Linked DNA regions of Homo sapiens: region 1 is linked to region 2. Evidence: fine-mapped expression QTL. A gene starts in region 2. The other region holds a variant in brackets. All regions are shown on one strand. Distances are between the middles of the regions. Region 1 overlaps RAD51L3-RFFL (RAD51L3-RFFL readthrough). Region 2 holds the start of LIG3 (DNA ligase 3).

The links. PIP is the estimated chance that this variant, and not a neighbour inherited with it, causes the effect.
Region 1: its variant is fine-mapped to the expression of LIG3 in stomach (GTEx, PIP 0.90).

What each region holds. Positions count from the first base shown.
Region 1 is chr17:35,064,276-35,081,105 of GRCh38, reverse strand. The region is part of intron 5 of RAD51L3-RFFL (RAD51L3-RFFL readthrough); the gene reads left to right. It also overlaps a transcript of RFFL not described here and the pseudogene RPL37P22. Among named protein-coding and RNA genes, the nearest start is that of RFFL, 9.0 kb to the right of the region's middle. RefSeq lists enhancers at 16,767-16,830, 16,649-16,830. The variant A/G (reference allele first, on the strand shown) is at 8,380.
Region 2 is chr17:34,968,906-34,985,176 of GRCh38, reverse strand. LIG3 (DNA ligase 3) reads right to left here and starts at 4,665. Exons shown (of 20, transcript NM_013975.4): 1 at 4,555-4,665; 2 at 1,625-2,175. The coding sequence starts at 2,171. RefSeq lists a silencer at 4,211-4,640.

The DNA of each region.
Region 1 (16,830 bases), 96 kb before region 2:
TGTCCTCTCCTCTAAAAAGATACAGCAAAACCTTCTTGCTCTCTCAGCAGCGTTTTTCAACTGCTACTACCGCCATGTGCTGAATTTGAATTTGAGCACACTTCAGTGTATGATTTTGTTGAGCTAATGTTATCTGACTTTTTAAAGCTGCCGCTCTGCAATGCTACAGTTAAACCTACATTTTCTGTTTTCATGTTCACATGCCTTTTCTAGAATTACATATAAAAATATGTTTTCATTATCTCTGAGTTGTGGAGTGTTCCCTGGGACAGTCACTTGTTTCTACCAGTGGCTAGTTCTAAGAGTAGGGGAAATCCACCTGGATTTGAACTACTTGGCAGCCAGTATGATCTGCTGAAACATTTTAACTGTCTTGGTCCTTTTTAAAGAAATGCTGCCTACTCATCTTGAAACTTACAGGAAGTTAGGCCAAGTGGAGGCTCTGCTGGCTTCTGAGTGGTTAAATGCAACTTATTAGTGATCAACACCATTGTTTATTTGCAACTGCTGGTGGATTATGTTAAAAGATTTGAAAGGAAAAAAAGCTTTTCTTAAGTAAATCGTGCATCCTCCTCTCCCACCTCACCCTCTTCTTGTTTTACTCTTCATTTGCTTTGGAAAATCTTTCCAGTCTTGGTACTGATCACATGTATATAGTCTTAGTGGCAATTGAATCAACGTATTTTATCCTAAAATATACAAAAAACTATGTGCCCTACCCTCTGCATTTTCTGCTAATCCTCCCATGCTTTTTTACCTTCATAATGATTAAAATATGTGCCTGAGAAATAACCAAGCTTCATCCTCTATCAACTTCCAACCCTCTTCTAGGTCTTGCGTCAGTAGATGCATAACCATTTGCAGTTGGGTTGGATTGTACCATCTTAACTATACTAATTATTATTTTACATGGTGTGGAAGATCAGCCAGAGCATATGCTTTATTCTAAAATGCTGGGCAAAGGAATGTTCTAATTTGGAGAGAGAGGAAGGAGTGTTTTCTAGGGCCTTAGCAGGAGTAGGTCCACTGAAATTCAGCTAGTTTGAGGAATCTGGATTTTTGTCAAGGGGTGGAAAGGAATAGTTAGGGGCTAAAATTATGTGCAAGCAGGGGTGGGAAGGAATAATTTATGAGATGAGGACTTTCCCAGTCCACAGTGGAGAATTCTTAATCTTCCAGATTCTCTTATGTTTGTCTACTTATCATATACTGATGGAAGAGTTTGTGTAATCCTTCTGTGTCAGAGCTAAAGTATACCTTAGCCATTGTTTACTGAGAGGGTGGGAAGAGGGATGTCAGAATATTCTCAGCTTGTCAAAGGGCATTCCACCTTCCTGTTGTACCCTTGGCCATATGGTTGAATCCAGCACTTCAGATGATTCTGAATCATCCCCACCACTCCCATTGATCTAGTTCAGTGTTTCCCAACTCTGAAATGTTGACACAGTTAGAGACCAGAAGCTTGAGGAATAGTGACTGTGAGCCCACCAATTAATGGGGGACATTAAAATGATAGTAGTTCTGCAGCTTCACCTCTAGATGATCTTCATCAGATTCTTAAATTGCATTTACTTGATAAAATCCTCACCACAGCACATCAACATGTCTCTTGCACTACCCAAAAGCAGTATTAAAAAGGAAAATACGTTGACAATTACTATCTAATTAGGTTTTTATTTGAGATACAGGCTATCTATAGCTCTGTTGTTATTTGTGGAAATGCTAGCAAAAAAACAGACTGAAATCTTTCTCCTTATGTTGTTGTTTTAGAAACAACACAAACAGGTTGGGCGGTGGCTCACGCCTGTAATCCCAGCACTTTGGGAGGCTGAGGTGGGTGGATCACTTGGGTTCAGGAGTTCAAGACCAGCCTGGCCAACAGGGTGAAACCCTCGTCTCTACTAAAAATACAAAAATTTGCCAGGCATGGTGGTGCGTGCCTGTAATCCCAGGAACACAAACATAAAAATAAGCCTCTAGTTTTATTTGGGAGGGATCGATATACCATATTCGAGTTCTGAATATCGTGTCAGGAAAGCAGTTTTTGATGCCACTAGTTAAATGTTTGTGTGTTTTGATATACCGTTGGTCTTCCCAACCAAACATCACTTTTTTTTTTTTTTTTTGAAACAGTGTCTCACTCTGTCACCCAGGCTGGAGTTCAGTGGTGCCATCTTGGCTCACTGCAACCTCTGCCTCCTGGGTTCACGTGATTCTCCCATCTTAGCCTCCTGAGTAGCTGGGACCACAGGCGTGTGCCACCACATCCAGCTAATTTTTGTATTTTTTGTAGAGACGGGGTTTCATCATGTTGGCCAGGCTGGTGTCGAACTCCTGACCTAAAGCGATCTGTCTGCCTCGGCCTCCCAAAGTGTTGGGATAAGTGCTGGGATTGCAGATGTGAGCCTCTGCACCCAGCCTATCCCTTTTTAAGATGGGGAAAAATGGAAATTTGCTGTTATGTATTACACATATTATGAAAGCATATTAGAATGTATTTTCTGGGCCGGGCCTGGTGGCTCATGCCTGTAATTCTGGCACTTTGGGAGGCCAAGGCAGGCAGATCACTGGAGCCCAGGAGATCAAGACCAGCCTGGGCAACATAGCAAAACCTTGTCTCCAAAAAATACAAAAAATTAGCTAGATGTGGTGTTGTGCACCTGCAGTCTCAGCTACTCAGGAGTCTGAGTTGGGAGGATTGCTTGAGTCCAGGAGTTTGAGGTTATAATGAACTATGGTTGCACAACTGTACTCTAGTGTGGACAACAGAGTGAGACCCTGTCTCCAGAAAAAAAATAATAAAAATCAAATAACTTCTTTATTGGAGATTACATACAAATCGTGACCTTTTTTTTTATTCCTGAAGTCTTTAGTAAGGTTATATGTTTACTGCAATAGATCTTAAATTTTACTATGATCAAAAATCTCCTAGGTGCTTGTAAAAAATAAAGATTCCTGGTTCCTAGCCCAGCCCTACAGAATCAAAGTGTTTGGGATAGAGATGTGGGATTCTGATGTAGTTTATCTGTAGACCCCACTTGGAGAAAGAATTTATGTGAGAAAGAACCACACATAAAAAAAAAGATTGAGAAATGCTATTATTTTGCAGAGGAGGAATTTAAAGCACAGAAAAGTCAAGAGGCTCAGACTTAACTAGGATATCCAGCTAGTTATTTGACTCTTGCAGACCAGAAGCTAGGTTGGCTGACTACTGTGGATTTGTGCTCTTTCCATTAGATTATAGTCTGGGGTGTGCCATCTTTTGGCCTCCCTGGGCCACATTGGAAGAAGAAGAATTGTCTTGGGCCACACATAAAATACACTAACACTAATGATAGCTGATGAAAGTTTATGAATTTGTGTTGGGCCCGGAGGCCATGGGTTGATCAAGCTTGGATTATGCCAGGGTGCCTCCTTGCTGGTTTATCTGATTGCCTTTAAATCAGAAGCTATAAGATAATGAGGGCAAAGGTACTTTGATTCCTTCAGAACAATAATGACTGAACTGGCACTTCATAGTGTGAAAAGTTTGTGCTTCTTAAACTATCTGTGGTGAAGGACCAGCTTTGTAAGGGTTTCCCTTCACCCCTAATCTGTTGCCAGCCAATAATTGTGTAAAGTACAAGAAAAGGGAATCACCAGAAAAATCATGCACTTGGATGTCACAGCAATGTCAAGCACTAGAAAAGTTTCTAAATGCTTACTGTGATTTTCTGTGTTTTATCTTGACGTGAATGGGCCTCCAGCAGTCTGACACACACACTTTGAATAGCATTGTTCTAAGTGGTTCTTAGGACATCTTAAGAACTTGATATCAGAGGTCCTTGATCATTTTCTTCCTCATGCCACCTATAACTGAAGCTACCATCTGAGAGCTCCCATTCCTACCTGGGGAGAGAAGTTTCATGACTTGGTGGTTTCCTAGGTCAGAACCAAAGTTGATAATACTTAGGGACTAGTTAAGGAACTATATAGTTAATTTATTTAATTATTATAAATAATTTATATATATTTAATATATATATAATTTATTTTAATATATTTTATTTTTATTTTTAAAAACCAGAACATTTATTGTGTTACTAATTGTTGAAATTCTTAAGATGAACTGGATGCTGCAGCAGCTGCCCTCTTGGGTTTAGGTGGTGTTCTTTCACAGAATCCATGCCCGAATTTGCTGTATACAATTTTTAAGTGCCTCATTTGACCAGTTCCAGTGGTAGTTTGTCTTTTAGCCTTGGCACTCCAGTTATACTTCCTCTTGCGCTTGGCAGCATAGCCACATTTGCCACAGGTCGACTTCTGAAGGTGGTACGTCCTGTCACGTCTTATTGTGATGCTTTCCAAACGATGATGTTCCCTTCATCATCTGGCTTCTGTTACTATTATTATTATTATTATTATTATTATTATTATTATTATTATTTGAGACGGAGTTTTGTTCTTGTTGCCCAGGCTGGAGTGCAATCGTGCGATCTTGGCTCACCGCAACCTCCGCCTCCCGGGTTCAAGCAATTCTCCTGCCTCAGCCTCCCAAGTAGCTGGGATTATAGGCATGCATCACCACACCCGGCTAATTTTGTATTTTTAGTAGATGGGGTTTCTCCATGTTGGTCAGGCTGGTCTTGAACTCCCGACCTCAGGTGATCTGCCCACCTTGGCTTCCCAAAGTGCTACAATTATAGGCATGAATCACCACGCCCGGCGTTTTTACTATTATTTTTAAAATTACTGCTCCTTGCAGAGCAGGGCTACCCTATAGGCAATGTGCCCACAGTAGCCAACCTTTAATATATTTAAGAGTAAATTGAGGCCGGGCATGGTGGCTCATGCCTGTAATCTCAACACTTTTGGAGGCCTGAGGCGGGCGGATCACTTGAGGTCAGGAATTCGAGACCAGCCTGGCCAATATGGTGAAACTCCATCTCTACTAAAAATACAAAAATTAGCCAGGTGTGGTGGCACGCGCCTGTAGTCCCAGCTATTCGAGAGGCTGAGGCAGGAGAATCCCTTGAACATGGGAGGTGGAGATTGCAGTGAGCCAAGATCATGCCACTGCCCTCCAGCCTGGGAGACAGAGCAAGACTCCGTCTCAAAAAAAAAAAAAAAAAAAAAAAAAGAATAAATTGATAGAATTTGCATTGGGTGCTTGTATTGGGAGGCATATTCCCCTCTTTTTGACTAAATACTGGAAAGGAGTTTCTAACTTCTTGGCCTGTAACTTAACTCACAGTTAAGATGCTTAAAGATGGGAGACAGAAAATAAAATTTAGGGGTGTGCAATTTCTTCGAGACGCTTTTGTGTTTGCTTTTTAGAAGCCTTTTGTGAATAGTCTACGAGGATGCATTATTAGTTTTTGTGGTTATAATGTCAAAATTAGTGTTGATTTGGAGCAGGCAGGGAAATCTCTCCATGCATGCTTTTCATCCTGGTTTAATTGCTTAGTTGGATGAAATGTCAAACTTGATAGATTATTGGAGCTGTTATTTTGGTAGTTAAACAATAATGAAACTGTTTGAATGTTTTTGGAGAACACTGCTTCCTGTGTCTGGACTTTGCACTGGAGAAAGTTTCAATTGTTCACAAGCAATACTGGTTAGAAAATGCAGCTTCTGTGGCTCCTAACACAGCTGTCTAAATTACTAGCTATATGGGGGCCTTTGGACAAGCACTGCTTAACACTTTTGGAAACAATTTGTTTCTGATTCCAAAAATGTCGATGGTCATTCCCTGAATACTTGAGAAAACTAGAAATGGGAAAAAGGTATTGCATGTGTCTAGGTTATGCCAGTCAAGTGTTTTTTCTTTAAGCATCTCTAGAACAAATTTACCTTTTTAGCTAAGGATAAGAGGTTTATGGAAATGTTGTAGCAGCCCCCTGGGCCTTTCTTTCCTCCTTGATGACTGTTCAGCAGGGTAGCATGTTGTCAGCTTGTGTGCCAGCTTACAGAGGGCTTGCGTTATTATAACCTTGATTAGGAAAGAGGGATGGGGAACAGGAGTGAGAGGACAGATGTTTTTGAAAGTCCCTCTGCCTGCTATGTGAAATCTTGAATTTTCACTTTGAACTTCACTGTTGTTTGGTGACAGATGTTATAAAACTGTCTTTACAAACAATCCCCTTTCCTATTGAAATTGTATGTTGGCCACAGGAGCTAGGGAAGCATTGGGCATGTTCAGCAGGATTTATTTCACTCATTCCACTGTGTCAGATGATACTTTTTCTGAATGAAATTGTATGCATTCTTCAGTGGGAGTTAGGGGAAGGCTTATTCTTGTCTAAAAGTATGGGAGAATTTGTGTAAGACTGATCAAAAGACTAGCACTTCTTTTGCTATGTGATACTTCTCTTTGTGCCATATTTTACCTGTAGGAAAATTACCAACAGTTATTATGTGCTCTCCAGGTGCCAGGGACTTTGCTGTATTAACAAGTTTAATCCTCCTAACAATCCTATGAGGTGTGTAGGTGTTATCTGTGTTCCACAAATGTGAAAATGCCGCACAGAGAAATTAAAGAGGGGGCCCAAAGCCTCACAGTGTTGGAACCCAAGTATTCCAGCTGTCAAGGTTGAGCTGTCAACTACTGGGTGACAGCTGCCTCACACTCCGTCAGGATGATTACCTTTTGAATAAGTCTTTACAAATATGTCGGCTGCAGAAGTAACCAGTCCAGAATGAATGAACTCTCACCGCAGTTTTAGCTCAGCAAGCAGTGCCTGCTATCAGAAACATCCAAAAACCACAGCAATTAGACAAATAAATTGTGAAAGATGTGGTTTCCAGGTAAGATATGTGACAGGCTTCTTACCGCAAATAGTTTTTCTTACAAAAGGAGAAAGACTGGTGGGAGAGATGGTGGAAAAAATGAAAACAATGTGTCTTTTATGATTGTCTGGGCCCATCCTCACAGGACTTCATATGTAGTGAAGGCAGAATATTTACCTCAAGCCCAGATGACCAACTTTTACTTTCTACACTGACTCAGGCTTCTTCCTAAAAATGGTGTTTCACCATTTATTCCACTAACATCACTTTTTAATTCTTAAAATAAAAAAGAATAGTTTTATTCATAAAACTACATGGGCCTACTTGTGTGGAATGTGATTTAAAAATGATGTTAGCAATACTTGTTACTTATTTTACTAGTTTTAGCTTTGTTAGTGCTGAAGGATGTTTTATAGTTTATTCTAAAATTGTAAACGTTTTTGATGTGTAAGCCAGTCACCCTTAAAAGCACATTTGGCTAAATAAATAAAGCATTAGGTTAGAGAAGAGTTCACTGGTGGTTATTTTTTGTTTTGTGTGTGTGTGTGTGTGTGTGCGTGTGTGTCTGTGTGTGGGGTCTTCCTGTTTGTCAATAGGCCTTCCCAATTAATTGAATTCTACATAAGATACATAGATGTTAGTGCCCCATAGGGCCTCATCTTGTAAGTGATGTTAGTGGAGTAAATGGTGATATACCATTTTCAGTAAGAAGCCTGAGTCAGTGTAGAAAGTAAAAGTTGGTCATCTGGGCTTGAGGCAAATATTCTGCCTTCACTACATATGAAGTCCTGTGAGGATGGGCCAGAGAATCATAGAAGAAACATTGTTTTCATTTTTTCCACCATCTCTCCCACCAGTCTTTCTTCTTTTATAAGAAAAACTATTTGCGGTAAGAAGCCTGTCACATCTTACCTGGAAACCACATCTTTCACAACTTATTTGTCTAATTGCTGTGGTTTTTGGATGTTTCTGATAGCAGGCACTGTCTGCTGAGCTAAAATTGCAGTGAGAGTTCATTCATTCTGGACTAGTTACTTCTGCAGCCTTCTGGCCCATTACTCATGGCTTTGGTGAGGCTCGATAAAAATATTGTGATGGATAGGGCACAGGTAGTGCCTGAATGTATTTCAGATAGTTGGGCCAACAACCAATCTATGCTTAAATAATCATCTCTCCTGCATAGTAGAGACTGCAAAATAGTATGAAACATGCTATACTTTATAAACATTTTGCCTTTTTTAGCTCCCCGTAGTGGCTGGACAGTTGACTGAATAATTTCATGTTTTTTTTTTTTGAGACGGAGTTTCACTCTTGTTGCCCAAGCTGGAGTGAAATGGCACAATCTCAGCTCACTGCAACCTCTGCCTCCTGGGTTCAAGTGATTCTCCTGCCTCAGCCTCTTGAGTAGCTGAGATTACAGATGCACGCTACCATGCCTGGCTAATTTTGTATTTTGAGTAGAGACGGAGTTTCTCCATGTTGGTCAGGCTGGTCTCGAACTCTCCACCTCAGGTGATCCACCTGCCTCGGCCTCCCAAAGTGCTGGGATTACAGGCGTGAGCCACCACGCCCGACCACTTTTTTTTTTTTATACTTTATTTTTAGGTAATT[A/G]TAGATTCACAGGAAGTTGCAAAAACACTACACAGTTCCCATGTACCCGTCACCCGTTTTTCTCCCATTGGTTATGTCTCATTTAACCATAGTACAATATCAACACCAGGAAACTGACATGGTGCTCTGTGTGTGTGTGCATGTGTGTGTGTGTGTGTGTAGTTTTCTGCTGTTTTATCACATGTATGGATTTGTGTAACTGTTCTACCACCACAAAGATCCCCCTTGTGCTACTCCTTTATTATCATGCATATCCGTTTTCCCTACTGTCCTAATCTCTGGAAACCAGTAATCTGTTCGGTGTCTCTATAATTTTGTCATTTCAGAAATATTATGGAAATGGAATCATAACAGTATGTGACCCAATATGTGACCTTTTAAGACTGGGTTTTTTGTTTTTTACTTTTATATGCATAGAACAATTGGAACTTTTTTTTTTTTTTTTTGAGACAGTGTCTGGCTCTGTTGCCCAGGCTGGAGTGCAGTGGCGCAATCTCAGCTTACTGCAACCTCTGCCTCTCTAGCTCAAGCCATCCTCCCACTTCAGCCTCCTGAGTAACTGAGACTACAGGTGTGCACCACCACACCCAGCTAATTTTTGTATTTTTTTTATAGACAGGGTTTCACCATGTTGCCCAGGCTGGTCTTGAACTCCTGAGCTCAAGCGATTTGTCCGCCTCAGCCTCCCAAAATGCTGGTATTACAGGTGTGAGCCACTACACCCAGCCTCGAATGTATTTTTTGTAGAGATAGGTCTCACTGTGTTTCCCAGGCTGGTCTTGAACCCGGCATTTTTCACTTAGTGTCACACCATCCATCCAAGTTATTGTGTGGCAGCAATAGTTTGTTCCTTTTATCTCTGAGTAGTATTCCATGGTGTGTATATACCACAGGCTGTTTAACTATTCACCGGAAGGGCATTTTAGTTGTTACCAGTTTGGGGCTATTACAGATGAAGCCATAATGAACATTTGTGTACAGGTGATTGTATGGACACAAGTTTTAGTTTCTTTGGGTTAAGCATCCAGGAATGAAATTGCTGGTTCTTAAGGTAAGTAAGTGTATGTTCAGTTTTCCAAAGAAATTGCTAAACTTTTTTTTTTTTTGGACAGTGTCTCACTCACTCTATCACCCAGGCTGGAGTGCAATGGTGCGATCTCAGCTCACTGCAACCTCTGCCTCCTGGGTTCAAGCAAGTCTCCTGCCTCAGCCTCCCAAGTAGCTGGGACTACAGGTGTGCACCACCACTACCAGACAAATTTTGTATTTTTAGTAGAGACAGGGTTTCACCATGTTGGCCAGGCTGGTCTTGAACTCCTGACCTCAAGTGATCTGCCCACGATGTCCTCCCAAAGTGCTGGCATGACAGGGGTGAGCCACCGCACCGGGCCAAAATTGCTAAATTCTTTTCCAGAGTTGCTGTACCATTTTACAGTCTCACCAGCAGTGTATGAGATCCAGTTTCTCTGCATCCTCACCAGCATTTGATATTGTCATCATTTTTAAATTTTTGTTTTTTTTTTTTTTTTGAGTTGGAGTCTTGCTCTGTAGCCTAGGCTGGAGTGCAGTGGCATAATCTTGGCTCACTGCAGCCTCTGCCTCCCAGGTTCAAGCAATTCTCCTGCCTCACCCTCTCAAGTAGCTGGGACTACAGGCATGTGCCACCATGCCTGGCTAATTTTTTGTATTTTTAGTAGAGACTGGGTTTCGCCCTGTTGGCCAGGCTGGTCTCGAACTCCTGGCCTCAAGCAATTTACCTGCCGTGGCCTCCCAAAGTGCTGCAAATACAGGCATGGGCCACCGTGCCTGGCCACCATTTTAAATTTTAGCTATTCTAATAGGTGTTATATCTGGTTTTTAAGTTCATCAGATTACTTAGTAAAACTGATTCGACTGACAAAGATAGAAGATTTTTGAGTTGTATTTTTAGCTCTCTGAATGAATCTGCCTCCATACAGTGTCACAGTGGTCTGCTGACTGGCTTTTTAGCACCCCTGCCATGGTTTCCTTGACAGCAAGACCCTAGACAAACTCTTTTTACCCAGCAATAGATAGCACAGCACTCCCAGTACAGTACTGCCCATAGACAAATAATACAATTTCAAAACTGTGAATTTCTTGTTAATTTTTTATACTTTTGCCTCCATGACTGTAGCTTTAAATGTACTCAAAATTTGGCTTCCAAAGGCCCTAAAAACTTTTTCAAATTGTTTTGGTTTATGTTATCAAATGGTCTTAGGTACTTTATTTCTAATACGATTAACTTAAACTGCTCACACCTATAATCTCAGCACTTTGGGAGGTTGAGGCAGGCGGATTGCTTGAGCCTAGGTGTTTGAGATCAGTCTGGGAACCATATTGAGACCCCATCTCTACAAATAATAAAAGAATTAGCCAGGCATGGTGGCATGCACCAGTGATCTCAGCTACTCGTGAGGCTGAGGTGGGAGATTGCTTGAGCCAGGGTGGTCAAGGCTGCAGTGAGCTGTGATCACACCACCGCACTCCAGCCTCGGTGACAGAGTGAGAACTGTCTCAGAAAAACAAAACAAAACCCAGCTAAAATAGCATAAAGTAGAAGTTAGACCCCCATCCCTACTAGGAATAACTGCTATTAAATGGTTTTAGTATATGTGTGCGTGCTCGCTCGCTCTTTTGCACGTGCGCGTGCTCTCCCTCTCTCGGTGTGTATGTATATATATGTATGTGTGTATCTATCATATATAATTAAATATATATTCCCCCCTGCTGTTCACAGTGCTTTTTTTCAAATGGGTAATGTATTATGGAGCATTTTTTAATGTGAATTTTTTAAAGCATTTAGGACCTGGGATGGAGCTTTGGGTTCCTTTCTCCAACCCTTGTCTGTTCTGTTATAAAAGGGATGAGAGAGGTACCTTTGAAAGACCTAAAGAAAATACGTTTTCTTCCTTGTTACATGGGTTTCAGTTGAAATAAGGTTTTAGCTTTATTTGTGAGTAAATCAGTAGAATACTGGATGTTAGGATGCATCTCTCCACTTTATTATAAATAATGCAAGGCTGATTTTATGATGTGATCTCTTGCAGAACTTTGGGGGAAGTGAGAACTGTGAGCACAATAATCTTCAGAGAATGCACAGTCCTTTGGGTATTTGTCTACTCATCAGCTGCTTAGTCAGATGGAGTGTTTTCCTAAGTACTACTGAAGTACACAGTTCAGTCTTTATTTTGAAATCTCTCCTTCTGCCTTCTCTCCCTCTTCCATTACTTTGATTACCTTGATGGGACATTCAAGCTGTGCAGTCGTATCCTTTTATTTCTATAGCCTGCAGAAACCAGGTTGAAGATTAACTGTAGGTGAACAGGTAATCTTATCTACTTGGCTAGAAATCACCCTTCAAGATGAAACACGTGTTGACAAAGGCCCCCTAGACTTGGGGACATGAACAAAGGTAAGTTAATCTTGGGGCATTATTAGTGGAAACCAGGGTAGACGTTTAGGAAGTTTGACTTATTGGAGGCAGGGCATGTGTGTCAGGGAGACAGAGCATGTGAGTGTGTGTATTAGGAGAAGAGACGAATTCAGAGGTATACAGAAAAGAAGAATGATGAATTCAGGCAATCTTCAGAGTTGAATTACAGAATCTTTTTTCTGAGAGTATGGTTACTGCGGCAAGGTAGTAATAGGACATGAGCCTGCTAAGTCACTTCATTATGAAGCTATTAGAATTTAGGTGATGGAGTTTGATGACAGGGGTCTTTTCCCTGCCCTTCTACTGTATTAGCTGCTCAGGGAAAAAAAACAGAAAACTAAGAAATAGCCTTATATAGAAAATTATACCCATCAAATGGTTCCAAGGTTTCTGTTGCTGGGTTTCTGAAATGAGCTGCCCAAGATAGCAGTTTGGTCATGTTGCTGACTTCTTGCTGACTTCCTTTCTCCTCCTCCTCCTCCATCGGGTCCTCAGGCTGGGTCCTGACCCCTCTGGATTCTTTCTTTTCCTGCATGCTTGCTACTTTTTCAATTACTGACATACAGGAACCTAGTATTTCATTGTGCCTGAGGTAGGCAGTTGCTAGCCTCTTGATATTGGATACCTTTTCTGAGCTATGAAGTATTACACCATAGTGGATAATAAAGTACTCACAATTGCATTATAGAATAGATTCTGGTAACTGCACCAGTGGGGACAGACTGGGTTAGCATGCCCTCACACAACTGGGGGGTTGTTTTGCAGCAAAGTGCTGTGAAGCAGGTTGAGCCTCATGCAGTGCCAGTTCCTGTATCTAAATGTGAAAGTGGCTTGTTAAAGATTAAAGGGACTGCCTGGTCCTTCTGGCCCCAAGATGGAATGATCTCTGCCATGGCGACAGCCTCTATCTCCCAGGAGAGGCCATTTTATACAGCACATTTGTGCTTCCAAATGTTACTGTAAGCCTGCACTGGCTGATACTCTGGCGATAAGTTGACATTTGGGCACTCTCAAGACATATGAGCTATATAGCATCCCATGGTTTGAATTTCTGGGCAAAATTGGCTCATCAGGAAGTCAAAAGCCTCTACTTTCAACCTGTTCCTTTGGGTTTTCTCCTTTGTTTTATTTGACTATTCTGTTGAGTCAAATGAACTTTAATTTTTAGCCATAAAAATTCCATTAAGCCCCTTGTATCATATCCAGGTGTGAAAATGTCTCAGTATAACAAGACTGTGGGTGACAGGTGAAATCCTTAATGGTAGTTAGGATAATTGTCTCTGAAGGCTTGAAGAAAATAATGGTCCAACCAACAAAGTGAATACAGTTTGTATTTTTTGTGGTTCTTGTGGGTGAGCGGACTTATGTTTAGGACCTGCTCAGTGTGACTACTGTTCAGCTTGGAGGTCTTTGAAAAAACTTTTTTTCATTTTACTCTAAACAGTGCTTAGGGAACATAGCTGTGTCCTTTTTCTCAAAACATGATCCAAGGCCCATCTGTATCAGAATTGCTTGGAAGGCCGGGCGCAGTGGCTCACACCTATAATCCCAGCACTTTGGGAGGCTGAGACGGGCGGATCACTTGAGGCCAGGAGTTCAAGACCAGCCTGGCCAACATGGCGAAACTCCGTCTCTACTAAAAATACAAAAATTAGCCAGGCCTGGTGGTGCATAGTAATCCCACCTACTTGAGAGGCTGAGGCAGGAGAATCGCTTGAACCCGGAGGTGGAGGTTGCAGTGAGCCGAGAAATTGTGCCACTGCACTCCAACCTGGGCGACAGAGCGAGACTCTGTCTCAAAAAAAAAAAAAAAAAAGGCTTGGAAGAGAGAGATACTTATTAAAAATTCAGTTTTGGCCAGGCATGGTGACTCACGTCTGTAATTCTAGCACTTTGGGAGGCTGAGGCAGGTGGATCACCTGAGGTCAGGAGTTCGAGACCAGCCTGGCCAACATGGCAAAACTCTGTCTCTACTTAAAATACAAAAATTAGCCAGACATGGTGGCATACGCCTATAATCCTAGCTACTTGGGAGGCTGAGGAAGGAGAATTGCTTGAACCCAGGAGGTGGAGGTTGCAGTGAGCTGAGATTGCACCATTGCACTCCAGCCTGTGCGATGAGAGTGAGATTCCGTCTCAAAAAAAAAAAAAAAAAATTCAGTTTCTGGGGCCTCCCTCCATGTCTGCTAATTCAGAGTGTCTGAGGGACTGGGATGAGAAATGTTCATTTTCAATAAGCACCCCTGTTGATTCTTAAGTACCCCTAGAGTTAATTGTTGAGTATCATAAAGTTTACTTCATTTTTCATGTTTAATTTCTGTGATTTATTAGATGATAAATATTTGGTTGCCATCATATTGTTTTTCTTAAATACTATGTTCTATAGTTAAAAAAAAAAAAAGGCTGTGAGGTCACTGAACACCAAGATTAGAATTTGGCAATCATTAATTATCAACAAGGTGAGACAGGCACTGATTCCTGGAAATGTGCATTTATCCATTCACCGACTTCTCAGTTAGAAAAAGGATGTGGACACAAGTAAGATTAATTTTGTTAAAAACAAGAAATGTGCAGTATCATTTAGGATGCTGGGGGTAGGGAAGTAGATAAAAGGGAGATGTTGAGAGGAAAGAGTGTGAAGAGAGAGTAAAGCAGTTTGTAAGTGATACAAACTTTAAAATTTTAACTGAATTTTAAACTACCAAGTCATATTTGAATATATGCTTGTTGTAAAAAAATTCATGATTTTTGGGGGGTAATTTGGATAAAGCTAAACATAGCTATTTGATCTTTATTCCCATTACAGTGCTCTCCCTGCTGTGTGCATCCTCCCAGATCTTCTGTATGTATTTGGTAATTTTCTGTGGATTTGGAAGACTACAGAATCCTGAGAAATGGATATTTTAATTTCTCTTTTGAAACCTGCTTATTGTTTATAATGTCAAGATCTATTGCAGAAAAGAAAGTAAATCTGGGATGTCAATGACATCACATATGTCTGTTCAAATGAAACAATGGGCACATACACATATGCACACTCATTAAATATCTGTTGAGACCACCCTATTAAAAAAAGCATAAATAGTTTTGGGTGTTAAGTTACTTGAGTTTTAAAATAACGTATTTTCTGTTTTTGTTGTTTTTTGTTTTGAGATGGAGTCTCCTTCTGTCGCCTGGGCTGGATTGCAGTGGCGCAATCTCGGCTCTGCAACCTCTGTCTCCTGGGTTCAAGTGATTCTCCTGCCCCAGCCTCTAGAGTAGCTGGGGTTAGAGGTGTATGCCACCATGCCTGGCTAATTTTAAAATAATGTATTGAAAGAACTTAGTCAGAAAGCCACAGTTATTATTTCTCCCATAGCCTCATATTCTCATAATTTTCATGTAACCTCATAAATCCTCAAGTGCCTGAAACCACTAGTTCAAACGAGTACCTTTTTAAGCTCTAAAATGTAATCCTCAACCTTTCCACTTTAAAAGGAAGAACTAGGATGGAGTGTGGCTATAATTTGGGGCAGTTGGTTAAAACTGTATCAGAGTCCCAAAGAGGGGAATGATAAGCTGCAGCAGCTCTGTTCACTTGCTCAATGGTGTTTCTCTTAGTCAACTTAGGAGTTCCATGCCTTTGGCCTTCAGGCTGCTCTTTATATAGTTCGTATCTGTCTCCTGGGCATAGTACTGTCTGGATTTTCTCTTTCTTTTTTTTTTTTTTTTTTTGAGACGAAGTTTTGCTCTGTTGTTGCCCAGGCTGGAGTGCAATGGCACAATCTTGGCTGACTGCAACCTCTGCCTCCCGGGTTCAAGCGATTCTCCTGCCTCAGCCTCCCGAGTAGCTGGGATTACAGGCATGTGCCACCACACCTGGCTAATTTTGTATTTTTAGTAGAGATGGGGGTTTCTCCATGTTGGTTAGGCTAGTCTTGAACTCCCGACCTCAGGTGATCCGCCCACCTCGGCCTTCCAAAGTGCTGCAATTATAGGCGTGAACCGCTGTGCCCGGCCCTCTTATTTAAAGTTCGCAAATACAGAACAGGTCAGGAGCTTTTCTAATCATTTTTTTTTTTTCTGAAGGAGGTTCCATATTTGTCTGTACCTTGAGAGTTGTTTCATACTAGAATTTGTAACTTATCATCAACTACAGAAATTTTTTTTAAAGTGTGGTTGAAGAGATAATGGTTGTCAGCTGCTATAAAGATGTGTTTATCATTCAGAAAGGACTAATTAACATGTACTATAGGGAAACTTCTTTAAACAAAGCCATTTTCTGAAAGGAAAACACTGAAGGGGAGGAAATAAAACAGGGAACATTTTATAATACCTTATCAAAGCTCAGCGTGGCTATCCTACTGGAATAATGTAATTAAGGAGAATTAAGTGAGTTGGATAAATAACTTTTTAAAACTAGCCCCTTGAATAGAAAATTAAGTAGTATAGTTTTTAAACTCAAATTCTGTCTGCACGTACATTTTAATTAACCTAACATTATTGAATGACAAGCTGAGTTGGCAGCTACATCCAGAGTTCATGCCATGTGAGACCTACCTTAAAGGATGAACGAAGCTGGGTGCAGAGGCCTCAAATGCCCTGCTAAGAAATAGCTGATGGCCTTGGGGAACTGTCATACATTTTAAGCAGGAAACAGAAGGATCTAATAGGAACTTTAGTTTCTCTCTTGTCAAATTAAAGCACACAAAAAGCAAGGACTTGATCTTTTTTTTTTTTTTTTGTATAACACCAATGTCAATTCTAGCCTGTCAGGGCAAATTCAGTAATTAATAGCTGTTGATGAGCCAGTCATTCTAGATTGATTTTTTAAATAAGCAGGCTAATAAATGAGAATTGACATAAATTTAGGGATGTCTCTTTTCAGAGCAAGTGTTAAGGTGATTTTCATAGTCTTCTGTATTCCCTATGCATCCAGTAGGTGTGATGGTAAATGATTTGGCTTTAGCATAGAGAATGTGGCAGCTGATTAAAAAAAAAAAATTCCAGTGCATCTA
Region 2 (16,271 bases):
AAACATGTTATATATAGCCATATATAGGTATGAATTTTACATGCATATACACGCACATATTTTCTAGCTCTGTCTGCTGAAAGGGCTTAGAAACAGACATGCCATGGCTGGGCGCTCAGGCCTGTAATCCCAGCACTTTGGGAGGCCAAGGTGGGTGGATCACTTGAAGTCAGGGGTTCAACACCAGCTGGACCAACATGGTGAAACCCTGTCTCTACTAAAAACACAAAAATTAGCTGGGTGTGGTGTCAAGTGCCTGTAGTCCCAGCTACTTGGGAGGCTGAGACAGGACAATTGCTTGAACCTGGAAGGCAGAGGTTGCAGTGAGCTAAGACAGTGCCACTGCACTCCAGCCTGGGTCACAGAGTGAGACTCTGTCTCAAAAAAAAAAAAAAGAAGAAACAGATACCCCATGACAATGTGTTCACATAGTATCCGGGTTTTACTCTTTAATACCATTTCCCACTAACAGGATAGTGCCACTACACTCCAGCCTGGGTCAGAGTGAGACTCTCAAAAAAAAAAAAAAGAAGAAACAGATACCCCATGACAATGTGGACACATAGTATCCAGGTTTTACTCTTTAACAGGGGCATTTCCCACTAACAGGAATCCCCAGAGAAATTACCAATTTCAGGGCTGGGGAAGGATACATACGGGATAAGACTAAAAGCATCTTGCTATGCTCAAGAGTAAAGAAGTACATTAAAAAAAGTTAATGAAGGTATACAGGACACAGAGGACAGTGTAAAGGGGTTCCTAATTGGCCAAATATGGGACAATTAAGTATCAAATTAGTTAAGTACAGTAATGAATTATATGCTACAAGAAAAAAAGTAAAAGAGGATAGTAATCAGTACTCTATTCTTCCAAAATATCAATGTCATAAAAGAGAGACTATGGAAATATTTCAGATTAAAGGAGGCCAAAGAAACATGACAACTAAATGCAACACCTGATATGATCCTAGACTGGGATCCTATACTGCAGGAAAAGGCTACTGAAGGTATGACTCAATCCATTGACAAAATAGTATACAGATGGTAGATTTAAGTATTACATCAAGGACAAATTTTCTGAAGATGATAGCTATATTATAGTCGCATAAGGGTCATATATCCTATTCTTAAGGTATATACACTGAAGAATTTTAAAGGGCCATGATGTATGCAACTTATTCTCAAATGGTTTAAAGTGAGTGCACGCACACGTGTGTATGTATGTAGAGAGAGACAGCACATGAACAAATATGATAAAGCAAATAGAGTAAAATGTTAATAGGTAAATATGGGTAAAAGGAATATGAATGTTCTTTGTACTATTTTTAATCTTCCAACACTTCAGTGAGTTTAAAATTATTTCCAAATAAAACGTTAAAGGCTGGGCATGGTGGCATGCGCCTGTAATCCCAACTACTTGGGAGGCTGAGTCAGGATGACCTGAGTCCAGCAGTGCAAAGCTGCAGTGAGCTACGAATGCAACATTAAACACTGGCCTAGGCAACAGAGTGAGACCCCATCTCTAAAAGAGCAAAGTTAAAAAAAAGAGAAAGAAAGCAGTTGAACTCCTTATCCCTTTTTCTCTCAGCACCAGTAAGATGAGAAAGCAGTGTTCTCTACCTTACCTGCAATGTGCTGGGTTATCTGTTCCTTCTCATTATCTTCCAGCTCTTCCCAGCCTTCCAGCTCTGTGAGGTCCTCGATTTTTTTTGTGGTGGCCCGGGCCCGCTCTAGTTTCTCAAACATGCATTTAATGTGGTACCACTCTTTCATATCACCCCCAGACTCTGAGAAGGGATTGGGCACCACTTTGCCAATTCGGCATACGCCCTTCACAATCTTTTCCTTGCATTTTTTGCAGCCAGCTGTGCCACGCTTGGCATAGTCCACACAGAACCGTTGCTCAGCCATCTCACAGGGGCCACTGCAGAGTCCCACATGCAACCCTGGCAAGAAAACAAGGTAGGTGGCACGTGATCTTAGATGGCTTCCCTGGAATGATAGAACAGGCTTTCTTCTCAGGAAGAGGGGATGTCCATGAAGCAGATCTGTTTCTGACCACTGGCTGAATTGTCTTACATCACGCCAGTGATGTTTTCGGAATAGGCACAGTTCTTTTCGGCTGAGTGCACGGAGGGTTTGTGGAAAGAAGATCTTGAAAGCCAAAGACATATAGCTGTACGAAAGAGTAGGAGGCCAAAAAAAAAAAAAAAAGATATAAACAAGGAGATAGGCTTCCAATTTTCCAAAGGCCAGCGTCTTATATAGTCCATGATGACTAATCAAACACTTTCCAAAGTATTACATTCATAGTCTACTCTACAGCATGAAAGAGTTCTGATACAGGAAAAGCCAGCTCGCAGCAGGATGTTCAATTATCTAATGCACACATGTACATCTAGTACATCACAATGAAGAAAATCCAAATAACATAAAAGCTCTTTTTAGGCCATCAGCAACATATGATACTCATAATGGATGATGACCTTTAAGTATTACAAGATCCTGAACTTTCTTTTTTTTTTTTTTTGAGGCGGAGTTTCACTTTAATTGCCCAGGCTGGAGTACATTGGCGCGATCTTGGCTCACCGCAACCTCCTCCTCTCGGGTTCAAGCGATTCTCCTGCCTCAGCCTCCCTAGTAGCTGGGATTACAGGCATGCGCCACCACGCCCGGCTAACTTTTTTGTATTTTTAATGGAGACGGGGTTTCTTCTTGTTGGTCAGGCTAGTCTCCAACTCCCGACCTCAGGTGATTCGCCCGCCTCGGCCTCCCAAAGTGCTGGGATTACAGACATGAGCCACCGTGCCTGGCCCTGAAGTTTCGTTTTAATCACCAGTAAAAATTACATTATGTTCATGAAGTTTTTATTGTGAAGTTTAACACATATGCCATCCTCAGAAATCAAGCCACTATATAGATTTGGAATTGAGTTAGAATCCCTATATTGAGAGACAACTAAGCAGAGCCTGGAATCAGACTGCCTGAGTTCAAATCCTAACTCAGCCACTTACCAGCTGTATAACCTTGATGGGTTTCTTACCTCTGTTCCTGAGCTTCCTTATCTGTAAAATGTGGCTAATTATGGGGCCTAACTTAAAGAGCTGTTCTAAGAGTAAAACCCTTAAAACAGTTGGGCACACAGCAAGAGCTCTCATTAACGTCAGCTCCTATTATGATCGGTGACGTCGTTATCTTTCAAGAAGAGGCTTCCGATGTGCAATTAACCTGTTTATCATTCAGCAACTTGAATCAGAGAATGCTGAAGTCACTGGGCAGCAAGACTCACAGGAACTCATAAATCAATCCAAATGGAAAAAGATTATATCAGCATCTTCTTATATTCATGTTTTCTAAAGCATTTTATAGTCCTAGTTTTAAGTATACTGGAATTATGTTCAGTCTGCACACGCTGTGAAGCAAAATTGCTGTCACGTTATAATAAAAAGCAGGCTTTGCTTACTGTAGTGCAACATGATGTGAAGGAAAGCTGGTGGACCTGGAATAAGGGATGGGAGTGCAAGTCTGACTGTACAGTTTACTGACTGTTACCTCGGAGAAAACTCTTAATTTATCTGCATCTGTTTTCTTATTTCTAAAGCAGGGTAAATAATACCTACCTCACAGGGTAGTTGGGAAAATTACAAGGAATCCATGAATGCGCTGGTTGTGGGGGAGGGAGGCTGTTCTGAGCTCTCTAAAAATGTATACAAAATGTACATTCGATAAAAATGCACGGTTTTTTGGAGGAGGTCTATCACTTTCGTGATATTCACAAAGGGCTATATAACTCCCAAAGTTTAAGAACCACAGAGGTGAGGTAAGTGGAAGTACGGCAGACCCATAAAAGGAGGTCAGAACAAGTGAGTTTCAACACTTTTCCTAGAAGATCAATTTACAGAGCAACCTCTAGGGCCCCAATAATGAAAGGAGTGGACTTGAGGGAGGCTCGGGAGGCGCTGGGCCACGAGGAGGCACAATGCAGCTTTGAGGAAACCCGTCTGTCCCTCGTTCCGCACCCTCACAACTGCCGCAGCCCAGGGGCCCGAGAAGGAAATCGCTGAGGCCTGGCCGCCGCCGCTTTTCTCGAAGGGCTTCCCGCGCCGCTGTCGGAGAGTGGCGGGGACAGTGGGGTCGGCGGCGTAGGCCGCGACCCCCGGCGAGGCAGAAAGGAGCGCTCCTCCACCGGGTCCGGGACGCAGGCGGGAAGTGATCAAGGCTCCCTGAGTCCCACCCGAGCGCTCCCGGTTCAGCGCAGGAGGACGCACGCCGGGCCAGGGTACGAGAAGGCCCCGTGGGTTCCACAGGGAACACAGCCCGGGCGCCGGCCTCCCCGCCTCACGCGGCCCCGTGGGGGTCCCGGGGAGCCGCGAGCCTCCCCCTGGGCTCCCGGGAGGGCCGCCACGTCACGGAGGGTGTGCCCCGGGGCTCCGCAGGCGGGCGGGGGAGGAGCCGGGGGGCTGGCTCCCCGGCCGCGCCGAGCTCCTCGCCCCGGGCCCGCTGCCTTCCCCACGCCGGGCCCCGCCGCGCCGTGCCGCGCCGCGTAGCCCCTCACCTGCCTCTCCGGCTCCGGCGCTCACCGTAGGCCTCGGAACTTGCTCATTACAGGCCGCGGGCAGCCCACGACGGTTGGAGCGCCTGTCTCTTTAAATCCGGGTCCTAGAGCGGGAGGCAGCGCGCAGGCGCAAGAGCCAAGGCCGCGGCCACGCGACCGGTCCCCGCCCCCGTCTGCCACGTGGGTCGTAGTTGCATTCTGCCTGCCCTGTGATGTTTGGGAGTAGTTTTCAACCTGCAATCGCGGCCCGGGAAGCGGAGGTGGGGGGACGTGGCGGCTCCTCGGAACGCAGCCTGGCCTGAACTTCCGAGGCTCCCCTTGATTTTCTCATACTGTTAGAGAGGATCTGTTTTTAAAGATATTGGTGGAGAAACTATATTGTAATGAGGTCGGGGAAGGCAAAGATCGCGTCAATCTATTTTTTAAATATAATCCCTCTGTTTGTGTCCCGCAGACTCCCTAGTAAATAGTTTGTATTCAGTAGCTTTCATGGAATTGAGACGAGGCACTAAACAGCAGATAGATATAAAATGTAAAGGAGTGATGGAGGAGAAACTCCTTGATTGTATATCATTCAAAGTGTATTATCTCAAATCTGAAGCCAGCTCTTTGAGAGTTGGGATGGCGATTTTTACAAATGTAGCAGCCTGAGGGTAAGTGACCTCTTCAGAGTCTAGGAAGAGCAAACAACTGGGCCTTGTTAGGTAAGCAAAGAACAGGTTCCCGAGAGAATTCTGTGCTGTGTGATGAAGAGTGTCGTCTTTACTCTGTAGAGGACGGAGAGCCATGAAGAGTCTTAGGGAATACTGCTGAAGCTGGGTGGGGAGAGACTGAGGCAAGGGAACAAATCAGAAGGCTCTCATAGTGACCCATGTGGGAGATGATTCAGCTAGTTAGGGTGGAGAGTAAAGTGCGTTTTTGAAGATCATTTAGAATTTAAATGATCTTCTAGATAAAGTGCTCGTTTATGGATAAAATAATAATAATTTGAGTGAGCAGAAACATAATGGTACCATCAACTGAAATAGAAAATAGAGAGGAAGAGGAGGTGTTAGGGTTAGAAAGATGAGTTTTGTATTGGATACATTAAGTTTGTTTGACTAAGTTTAACTGCGATTCTACTGTTTGGAGGGGAGTAAAGCCTGCTTTTAATGCGCAGCAGAATGAACCAGGGCTTTGGTTCAACCAGGCAATTGGAAGGTCGCTGGAGACTCACGTCCTAGCTATGATAATTGAGTGATCTTGAGCACGTCTCTACAACTACATTTGCTACATTTTTTTAAGTTTCCTCAACCGTATCTGTCTTTTTCCAATGCTGTAATCACTAGCCACACGTGACTATTGAGCACTTGAATGTTGCATGGAATTGAGATGTGCTATAAGTGAAGAAAATACACACCAAAAAATTCATACTAAAAAAAGTAAAATATCTCATTAATAATATGTACCACATAATGACATTTAGGCCAACAATGGACCAAATATATGAGGGTGGTCCCATAAGATTATAATGGAGCTGAAAAATCCCTATCATATAGTGACAGCACATTACTCATGTGTTTGTGGAGATGCTGGTGGAAACGAACCTACTCCATTGCCAGTTGTATAAAAGCATAGCACACACTATTATGTACAGTATATAAAACTTTATAATGATAATAAAGGACGATGTTGCTGGTTTATATATTTAGTATACTATACCTTTTATTGTCATTAAATTAAATTAATTAATTTAGTTATTTTTGAGACAGAGTCTCGCTGTGTCGCCCAGGCTGGAGTGCAGTGCCACGATCTTGGCTCACTGCAACCTCTGCCTCCCAGGTTCAAGTGATTCTCCTGCCTCAGCCTCCCAAGTAGCTGGGATTACAGGCCCTTGCCACCACAATGGGCTAATAATTTTTTTTTTTTTTTTTTGCGACAGAGTTTTGTTCTTGTCGCCCAGGCTGGAGTGCAGTGGCAGGATTTTGGCTCACTGCAACCTCTGCCTCCTAGGTTCAAGCAATTCTCCTCCCTCAGCCTCCTGAGTAGCTGGAATTACAGGCACCCGCCACCACGCCTGGCTAATTTTTGTATTTTTAGTAGAGACGGGGTTTCACGATGTTGGCCAGGCTGGTCTCAAACTCTTGACCTCAAGTGATCCGCCTGCCTCGGCCTCCCAAAGTGCTGAGATGACAGGCATGAAACACTATGCCCAGCCTTATTGTTATTTTAGAGTATACTACTACTTATTGAAAAAAAAAAAGCTAACTGTAAAACAGCATCAGGTAGGTCCTTTAGGAGGTATTCCAGAAGAAGGCATTGTTATCAGAGGAGATGACAGCTCCACGTGTGACATTGCCCCTGAAGGCCTTCCAGTAGGACAAGATGTAGAGGTGGAGGATGGTGATATTGATGATCCTGACCCTCTGTAGGCTTACTAGGCTAATGTGTGTGTTTCTGTCTTGTTAACAAAAAAGTTTTAAAAGTAAAAGGAATTTTTTTTAATAGGAAAAAGCTTATAGAATAAGGATATAAAGCAAAAATATTGGCTGGGCACAGTGGCTCACATCTCTAATCCTAGCACTTTGGGAGGCTGAGGCAGAAGGAGTTCAAAACCAGCCTAGGCAACATATTTATAAGAAATAAAAATATTTATTTAAAAAAAGAAAAATATTTTTATACAACTGTGCTGTTTATGTGTGTGGTTTTATTAATTTATTTTTTTGAGATGGAGTTTCGCTCTTGTCACCCAGGCTGGAGTGCAATGGCACAATCTCAGTCCACTGCATCCTCTGCCTCCCAGGTTCAAGTGATCCTCCTGCCTCAGCCTCACAAGTAGCTGGGATGACAGGTGCCCACCACCACGCCTGGATAATTTTTTTATATTGTTAGTAGAGACGGGGTTTCTCCATGTTGGTCAGGCTGGTCTCAAACTCCCAACCTCAGGTGATCCACCCACCTTGGACCATTTTCTTTTATACCTTTGTGTGTGTGTGTGTGTGTGTGTGTGTGTGTGTGTGTGTGTGTGTGTGTGCTGTGCTTTGCCTATGTTTAGAGACACAAATACTTACCATTGTGTTATAGTTTCCTACAGTATTCAGTATAGTACATGCTGTATGGGTTTATAGCCTAGGAGCAATAGCCTATACCATATAGCTTAGGTATATAGTCAGCCATATCATTTAGGTTTTGTAAGTACACTATGATATTCCCATCACAAAATCACTTTACGATGCATTTCTCAGAAGGTATCCTGTTGTTAAACAACTCACGACTATCCTATCTTTATGTTAATTATTTATTGAAATGATTTTTTTGGATATGTTATGTCAAATAAAATATAGTAAAGTTCATCTCACCTGTTTATTTTTACTTTTTTGAAAATGTGGTGACTAGAAAATATAAAACTGCACGTTTGGCTTACACTACATTTCTGTTAGAGTACACTGCCTTAGATTTCAAACCTACATGTAGAGGGTGGCATCTGTGCTATATGCTCAGTGCCTAGAACAGTGCTGGGCACATAGTAGATACTCAACAAATATCTGTGAATAATGAATGAAACTCATGAGTGAATGGAATGAATGAATAAAACTCTGGAAGTGATAAGATCCCTTAGAAGGATGTTTATTATATCATAACAATATTTGATATAAACTTGCAAAGACTTAGGCTGTAAATGATTTTTGCTTGATGAGAGCTCCCTGAACCCCCTGATTCTCTCTGATTCAGGTCCCCTGCTGTGAAATAGAACTAGGTACACAAGAAATGGAACTAGGTACGAAAGCCGGCAGTTGCACTTCTTTAGAAAAGTGGGAACTGGCTGGGTGTGGTGGCTCACGCCTGTAATCCCAGCACTTTGGGAGGCCGAGATGGGCGGATCACAAGGTCAGGAGTTTGAGACCAGTCTGACCAACATGGTGAAAGCCCATCTCTACTAAAAATACAAAAATCAGCCAGGTGGTGGCGTGCACCTGTAATCCTAGCTACTCAGGAGGCTGAGGCAGAAGAATCGCTTGTACCTGGGAGGCAGAGGTTGCAATGAGCCGAGATCGCGCCACTGCACTCCAGCCTGGGAGACAGAGCGAGACTCTGTCTCAAAAAAAAAAAAGAAAAGTGGGAACTACTCTACCAAGGAGAATGAGGCAAAGTGTGGTAGGAAGAGCAGGGCTTTGGATTTGCACAGACAGGTTTGAATTATGTTCCACTACCAGCTGTCTGTAACTTTCATCTATTTTCTTAACTTTCCGGGTCTCAGTTTTCACCGTGAAATGGGGATAGTTTTACATTTAGGTCCCGGATCAATTTTGAGTTTATTTCTGTGAAGGGTGTAAGATCTATCTAGATTCAATTTTTGCCATATGGATCCCTTGTTGATCTAACACCATTTCTGAAAAGACTGTTTTCTCATTTGTATTGCTTTTGGTCATTTGTCAAAGATCATTGACTATATTTATGTGAATCTGTCTGTGGGCTGTGTATTCTGGTCCATTGGTCTATTTGTGTGTTCTTTGACCAGTACCACACTGTCTTGATTCCTGTAGCTTTATAGCAAGTCTCAACTTAGATAATGTCAGTCCTCCAACTTTGTTCTCTTCCTCCAATATTGTGTTGGCTATTCTGAATCTTTTGCTTTTTCACATAAACTTTAGAATCAGTTTCTAAAGCCAATATCCACAAACTAAGTTACTGGAATTTTGATTGGGATTGTATTGAATATACAGATTACATTGGAAAGAACTGACATCTTGACAATATTGAGTATTTGTATCCATGAAGATGGAATATTTATTGATTAGTTTGTCTTTGATTTCTTTTATTAGAGTTTTGTAGTTTTCCTCATACACCTCTTGTACATATTGTATTAGATTTATGCTTAAGTATTTCATTTTTGGGTTGGTGGTGAAATGAGGATAAAAATAACTCTTGGGATTGTAGGTGCCAATTAAATGAGATGACTGATGTCAGCTTGCAAACTGCTTGGCACTTAGAGGCATTTCAATAAATGTACATTCTCCTGCACCACCCAGCCTGGATACATTCATACCACTACAGAGTGTAATCACTCAGTCATTGATTGGTCAGTCAAGTATTTATTGAGTGCCTACTCTGCATCAGGCACAATTCCAGGAGTGTAATACAGTAGCGAAACAAAGCAGACAAAAATCCAGCCCTCATGGAGCAAACTAGTGTGGGAGATCAATAACAAACAGGGAAGTAAAATGTATAAGGTGTAAGAAGTCAGTGGGTGCCATGGAGAAGAAGAAAGCAGAGGAGGGTGGGACATGCGGGGTAGGGGCAGGGTGGCAGTTTTAAATAGAGGTCAGAAAGGCCTCACTGACAAGTAACAACTGAGAAAAGATTTGAAGAAATGAGTCAGCCTCATGCAGATTGAGGGTAGATGGAGCATTAGATAAAGGCTTGGAGGCCAAAAATGTGACTGTCATTTAGGACAATAGCAAGGAGATCCATGTGGCTAGAGCAGCTGGAGTTAAGGTTGAGAAGAGCAAGGAGACAGATCCTGTAGGGTCTTGTAAGACATTGCAAAGACATTGGCTTTTATTCCAGGTGAGAAGGGAAGCTAGTGGATTGTATTGAGCCGAGAAGTCATGTGATCTAACTTAAGCTTTAACAGGATCACTATCACTCTGGTTGTTGTGTAGAGAAGTTGGGAGATGAGTCAGGTAGCTATGTTAATAATCTAGGGGAGAGATGAAGGCAGCTTGGGTGGTAACAGTGATAGTAAGAAATAACTGAGGCTTATAGACCCCTAGGGGAACTGTGGATGGGCTCAGGGGTGTCCTTGAATTTCCTGAAATTTTATATAAACATTTGTGTGCATGGGCATTTTTGGTGAAGAGCTTTTATGGAGTCTCAAAGCAGTTTTATGATCCAAACAAGAACTAAGCTGGTGGTGAATAATCAGGATATCTCATGCTTGTTCCTAGCTATTCAAAGTCCTCAATTAAGTTCTTTCCACAGATGTTGACTGTAAATCCTCTACGGCATCTATCCTGTTTGTGAGCCTCTTAAGAGTTTTGACTGTCTCCTTTAAGTCTGTTCTAACCCTGACTTCCAGTTAAGACTCATCAGAATTGTTACAAAGAAAAAGAGCCATAAGGAAATGGGTAGATTCTGTTCATGTTCTATGCTACTAACTGTGGTAGTTTGGGAGCCACAGGCAAGAATTGGGAAAAGGCTTGACACTGTCCTAGAGATAGTGAGGGGCACTTGTGAGGCTAGTCTGTTCTCAGTGGGTTCCCTTTTTTAATAAGCTGTGGTCTATGAATCACATAAACCCCAGCAGCAAGAGCTGATTTTATGGGTTGGTTTGCTTAATAGTCACACAATTCAAATAAGTTGTAAAAAACGGTGCTGGTATTTGCCAGGATAAATATTTAAAAGGGAATAGCTGTAGAAAGATATAATAATTCAAATCAGCTCATCGTTCTTCATTCTCAATAAAGGCTGCGGAGGTTGGTTCTTAACCAGGGGGGTTTCTTGGCCTCTCCTTTGAATATGTTGTGCTACAGCTGTCAGGTTGAGAAAGGGCAGAGCTGAGAGAAGTCATACTTGCCTTTGGGAGTAGCTGATCCATGACAGAGAGGTTCTGGGACAGGGTTAAGAAGAGGGTTGAGGTCACAGATGTGGTGTGAGGAAAACTCAAAGTTGCCACCATCTTCCTTGAGCTCCTGGGTTGGGTTTTCTAGCGTGAAGTCCTGGTGGTTATGTTTTTCAGGAGACAAGTTAATAATTTTCAAAGGAAAATATATTTTATGAAGAGATGAGCCTATTTGGGAGGTAAACTCCCTTTACTGGGAGTTTAAAGTTCTCCTTTACTGGGCTCTGGCCTGGTTGATAAGGTAGTTTTGATGATAGTTGGTTTTTTAGCTTTGGTGCAGTGGCAGAGGTTGAAGACTGGGCTGAACACTTTACCTCTCTTGTTCCTCCTGCCATTCCTGTATATTGGGAGAGCCTCTACCCCTTTTCTTTCCTTCTCTAGATGTGCCACTTTAGCCCTCTTGAAGCATTCCTGACCACCCATGCTGCCACCTCCCCTGCCTACAGCTCCTGTCTTGATCTTGGTGATGGATCCTCTTGGGAGGGTCCTTAGTACCCAGACATAGCCTAATACTCCAAGAGGATAAAACTAAGGCTCAGGGAGTAAACTGACCAGGTAGATATCACAGCTAATTGGTGGCAAAGTGGGACTCAGACCCTAGACTTTTGATTAGCCCTCTTTACACTGCGTATAACCAGTAGTTTAATATTTTGGTCCTGCCCAATTTCTTTTCTTTTTTTTCTTTTTTTTTTTTGGAGTTGCGGTCTTGCTGGAGTGCAGTGGTGCCATCTCGACTCACTGCAACCACCACTTCCCAGGCTCAAGCGATCCTCCCACCTCAGTCTCCCAAGTACCTGGGACCCACAGGTGCATGCCACCAAAACTGACTTTTTTATATTTTTGGTAGAGATGCGGTTTCACCATATTGCCTTGGCTGGTTTGGAACTCCTGAGCTCAGGTGATCCATCTGCTTCAGCCTCTCAAAGTGCTGGGAGTGCACCACCACACCCGGCTAATTTTTATGTAGAGATGGCATCTCGCCATGTTGCCCAGGCTGGTCTTGAACTCCTGGCTTCAAGTGATTCTCCCACCTCAGCCTCCCAAAGTGCTGACATTACAGGCGTGAACCACTGCACCTGGCCCCTGCCCAGTTTCTTATATACTATTTATAACACAACCAGATTGTAATTTCCTTGAAGATCAGGGCCACTTTTTCACTCATTTATTCAATAAGTATTGTTTGAGTGTCTGCTTTGTGCAGGGCATTGAGTGAGTAAGATAAACTCAGACTCTGCCTTCAGGGAGAGGTTGATATATACCTTTGAATTTCTTGCAGACCCTTGTACCGTAGTGTACACTAAAGAAGTACTCAGTGAACATTGATTATTGTTAATAAGTATTATTGAGGGCTTCTTATAAGCCAGTGCTAAGCAATTTGTGTGTATGTATTTAATCTTCACAGTAAACTTGTGAGGCAGGATCTGTTATCAACAGATGAATAGGTTGACAGGTTATGTTATTGCTTCAAGCATTGGTTTTTGCCACTGCAGAACTACGTGAAGAACTTGTTTAACATACTGTTTCCGATGCCCCAACCTAGACCCACTGACCTAGAATCTCCTTGAGTAGGTCAGCATAGGGCATTGGATATAGTTGGGTTAGGGAACCATTGTCTTTGAAATGGGCCCATTTGGACAGACTAGGTGGGACAGCCCTTCATCCAGAACCTGCACACTGATGTCTGATGCTGCAAATGTTAGCCAGGTGTCCTCCTGCCCAAGTATCTATCTAAAACCTAAACTCTCTTTAACTTGGGTTTTAGCTGTGTTCTGTACTTTTCTATTTCTTAAAGAAATTTTTGGGTAATGGGTACAGGATGTTTGTTATATTATTTTCTGTACTTCCCTGTGTGCTTCTATTTCCTAAACTTTTTGAAAATTAAAATAAAAAGACATCAACCAAAAGAATATATCAGTTTCTGCTATGAGAGGTTTTCAAGTAGCTTCAAGGACTATTTGGAGGAGTAAAATTGAGTCTTTTTCTTGAGTGAATCTTGTGTTCTAAAATAGGAGGGCTTCTCTAGTTTTTCTTCCCTCTTATTTCGAGGAGTATAGAAGCTGTGGGCTGAAGAGCCAATCCATAACTGGAAAGAAAATCCAGATTAAAAGAAGGAATTACTCATTTTTGTCCATCGTCTCTATCTTTTCCCAGTTGAGGATGGTAAGTCTTTCCAAGAAACGAATGTGCTTTTTTCTCTTCCTTCCCACGCTGGATTTCTGCTTTCAGGCTGGAGTCTAAATTGCTTAGGCTCACATGCAAGGTTCTTTGTAAATCTAGTCCCAGTGGACTTCCTGTCCTATTTCCACCACATCCTTCCATGTACTTGAGGCGACAGTTTCCCCAGCACTGCATACTTTCCATGTCTCTGTGCCACTGTTACCTTAGTCCACAATACTCATTCCCTCCTTCACTGCTTGGCACAGTCTTTCTCATCCTTCAATGCTGAGTGCAAATTTTGCCTCCTCAGAAGCCTTTCTGAACCCTCCTCCCTGCAGTCAGTTGCTCCTCCAACACACTGCCCACTCAACACTTTGCACAAACATATTTTATCATATTATATTATAGTTAGTTGTAAACAGACCAGTAGATCTCAACTGGGGGCTACTCTTAGCTAACACGATGAGGTGGTGGGGTTGTGACAGTGCCACTGGCATTTAGTGGATAGAGGTCAGGGATGCTGCCAAACATCCTATGATGCACGGGACAGACCCCAGCCCAAATAATTATCCAGTCCCAAATGTCAATAGTGTAGAGGGAAGCCTGGTACGGTGGCTCATGCCTGTAATCCCAGCACTTTGGGAGGCTGAGACAGGAGGATCACTTGAGTACAGAAGTTCAAGACCAGCCGTGGTAACAGGGAGACACTGTCCCTACCAAAAAAAGGGGGAAAAATAGCTGAGTGTGGTGGCTCGTGCCTATAGTCCTAGCTACTCAGGAAGCTAAGGCAGGAGGATCACTTGAGCCTGGGAGTTCAAGGCTGAGATGAGCTATGATCACACCACTGCACTCCAGCCTGGGCGTCAGAGCGAGACCTTGTCTCGGAAAAACAACCCACCAACCAACCAACCAAACAAAAATAGTGATGGGGTTGAAAAGCCCTGATCTAGACTGAGATCCCTTTGTTCAGGGCCACATTTTATTCATCTTTGAATCCCTAGGAACTCTCATAGAGTAGGTTCTCAATAAATGTCACATATACAAATGAGAGGGAGTGAATGGAAGCAAGTGGGTCTAAGCCACCTTGGGAAATAACTCTACTTAATCCAGTGCCTCTTCTACTTCTAAATTATCCCCAAAAGAGCAAAAGCATTTTCCCTCAGATACCCTCTGCGGATGGTCACATGGAGGAAGGGCAGTCTCCTAGAATACGGAAACCATACAGTACAATAATAACAGGCAACACTTAGTGAGTGCTTACTGTATGGCTCAGGTGCTATACTAAAAGCATTGACATGCGTTTAACTCATTTAATCTTAGGAGACAGGAACTATTACTCTCCTTGGATTATATTAATAGTTGAGGAAACTAAGAGTGAAGTGACTTGCCCAAGGTCACCTTGTCAAAAAGCGGTGGATCACAGGGCACTTTGTAACTGTTGTTTCCCATTGGGATTTCTGAGAACTGAAATCATCATTCTTCCCCCCATCAGAGACCACTAAGGAGTACACACTTTATTGCTGGCGAAATAGGGTAAGGCAGAGTATTGTGGGAGTGTGTGGAGAAAATCTGAGGATAACACCCTGCAACAAAGAGGACTTCCCAGCCTAGCAAGGGATTGTGAAAAGCACTGGACTGCTTTAACCTTGACAGCAAACTTCCCTCATCTTAATTCTTGCTATTTTGGGGATCCTGTCATGTTTTGCACATTTTATTATTAAATATAGAAAATATATTGGACTAGGAAATCAAGTTACATCTAGTCTTAGTGATTAACTTACTGAGTGACCTTGGACAAGTCATTAGACATCTAAAATGAAGTGATAATAGTTGTTTCACTTTTGGTGGGGGGTGGTGAGATAAAAAAAAAACCAATCTCATGCTACCGATAAAAACATACCCGAGACTGGGCAATTTACGAAAGAAAGAGGTTTAACGGACTTACAGTTCCACATGGCTGGGGAGGCCTCGCAATCATGGTGGAAGACAAGGAGGAGCAAGTCATGTCTTATGTAAACAGCAGCAGGCAAAGAGACAGAACTTGTGTAGAGGAACTCCTCTCTTTAAAACCATCAGATCTCCTGAGACTTATTCAGTATCACGAGAATAGCACAGGAAAGACTTGCCCCCTTGATTCAGTTACCTCCCACTGGGTGCCTCCCACAACACGTGGGAATTCAAGATGAGATTTGGGTGGGGACACAGCCAAACCATATCAGTTGGTGAGTAAAAAATACTCTATGCAAGTATATATTAATATTAAATAATAATGATGCAGTGTAATAGTGGGAAGAACAAGGGCTTTGGGATTGTTGTCTTGAGTAAGTTGTTTCACTTCAGAGCCTCAGCTTCCTCATCTGTAAAATGAAGATTTCATATACTTTACAGGGTTGTGAGGATGTGACATGGTGTATACCAAACCCTAGCATAGTGCCACCCATATGGTAGGTATCCAGTCAATGGTAGCTATTATTAATAACCCGATCAGCTGGCTTGATTGATACTACCTTGTAACTACACTTGGCAAAACAACAAGCAAACAAACAATACACAACAATGAAAACAACAAACACTACCATCATCAACCACTTCGTGTGGTCCTCCTCATTCCCCTAAAGATGACTCTTGGCTTCCCAGTGTGCTTGAAGCTCAACAAATGCTGCTAGCAAAATGGAGGTGCAGCCAGATGGACCTGGTTTCCTCCTCTGAGAGACTGGGGGTACTTACAGTGAAGGATGGCTGAGTGCATAGATGCACTCTGAAAGGTTTTGACTGCCAAGAGACAAGGGGTGAGCCAAATGAAATGGTGAGGGCTGAGCATGGCTGGGGGTTAGTGAGTGCTTGTTGGCTTTGTGATCTTGCCCTGCCACTGGGTAACTTTCCTCCTTCTGGTATCAAGGCTGCCCAAGAGCTCCCACTGACATATGGAGGTCCCTCTTTGCCTATTTGGTGCCATGAG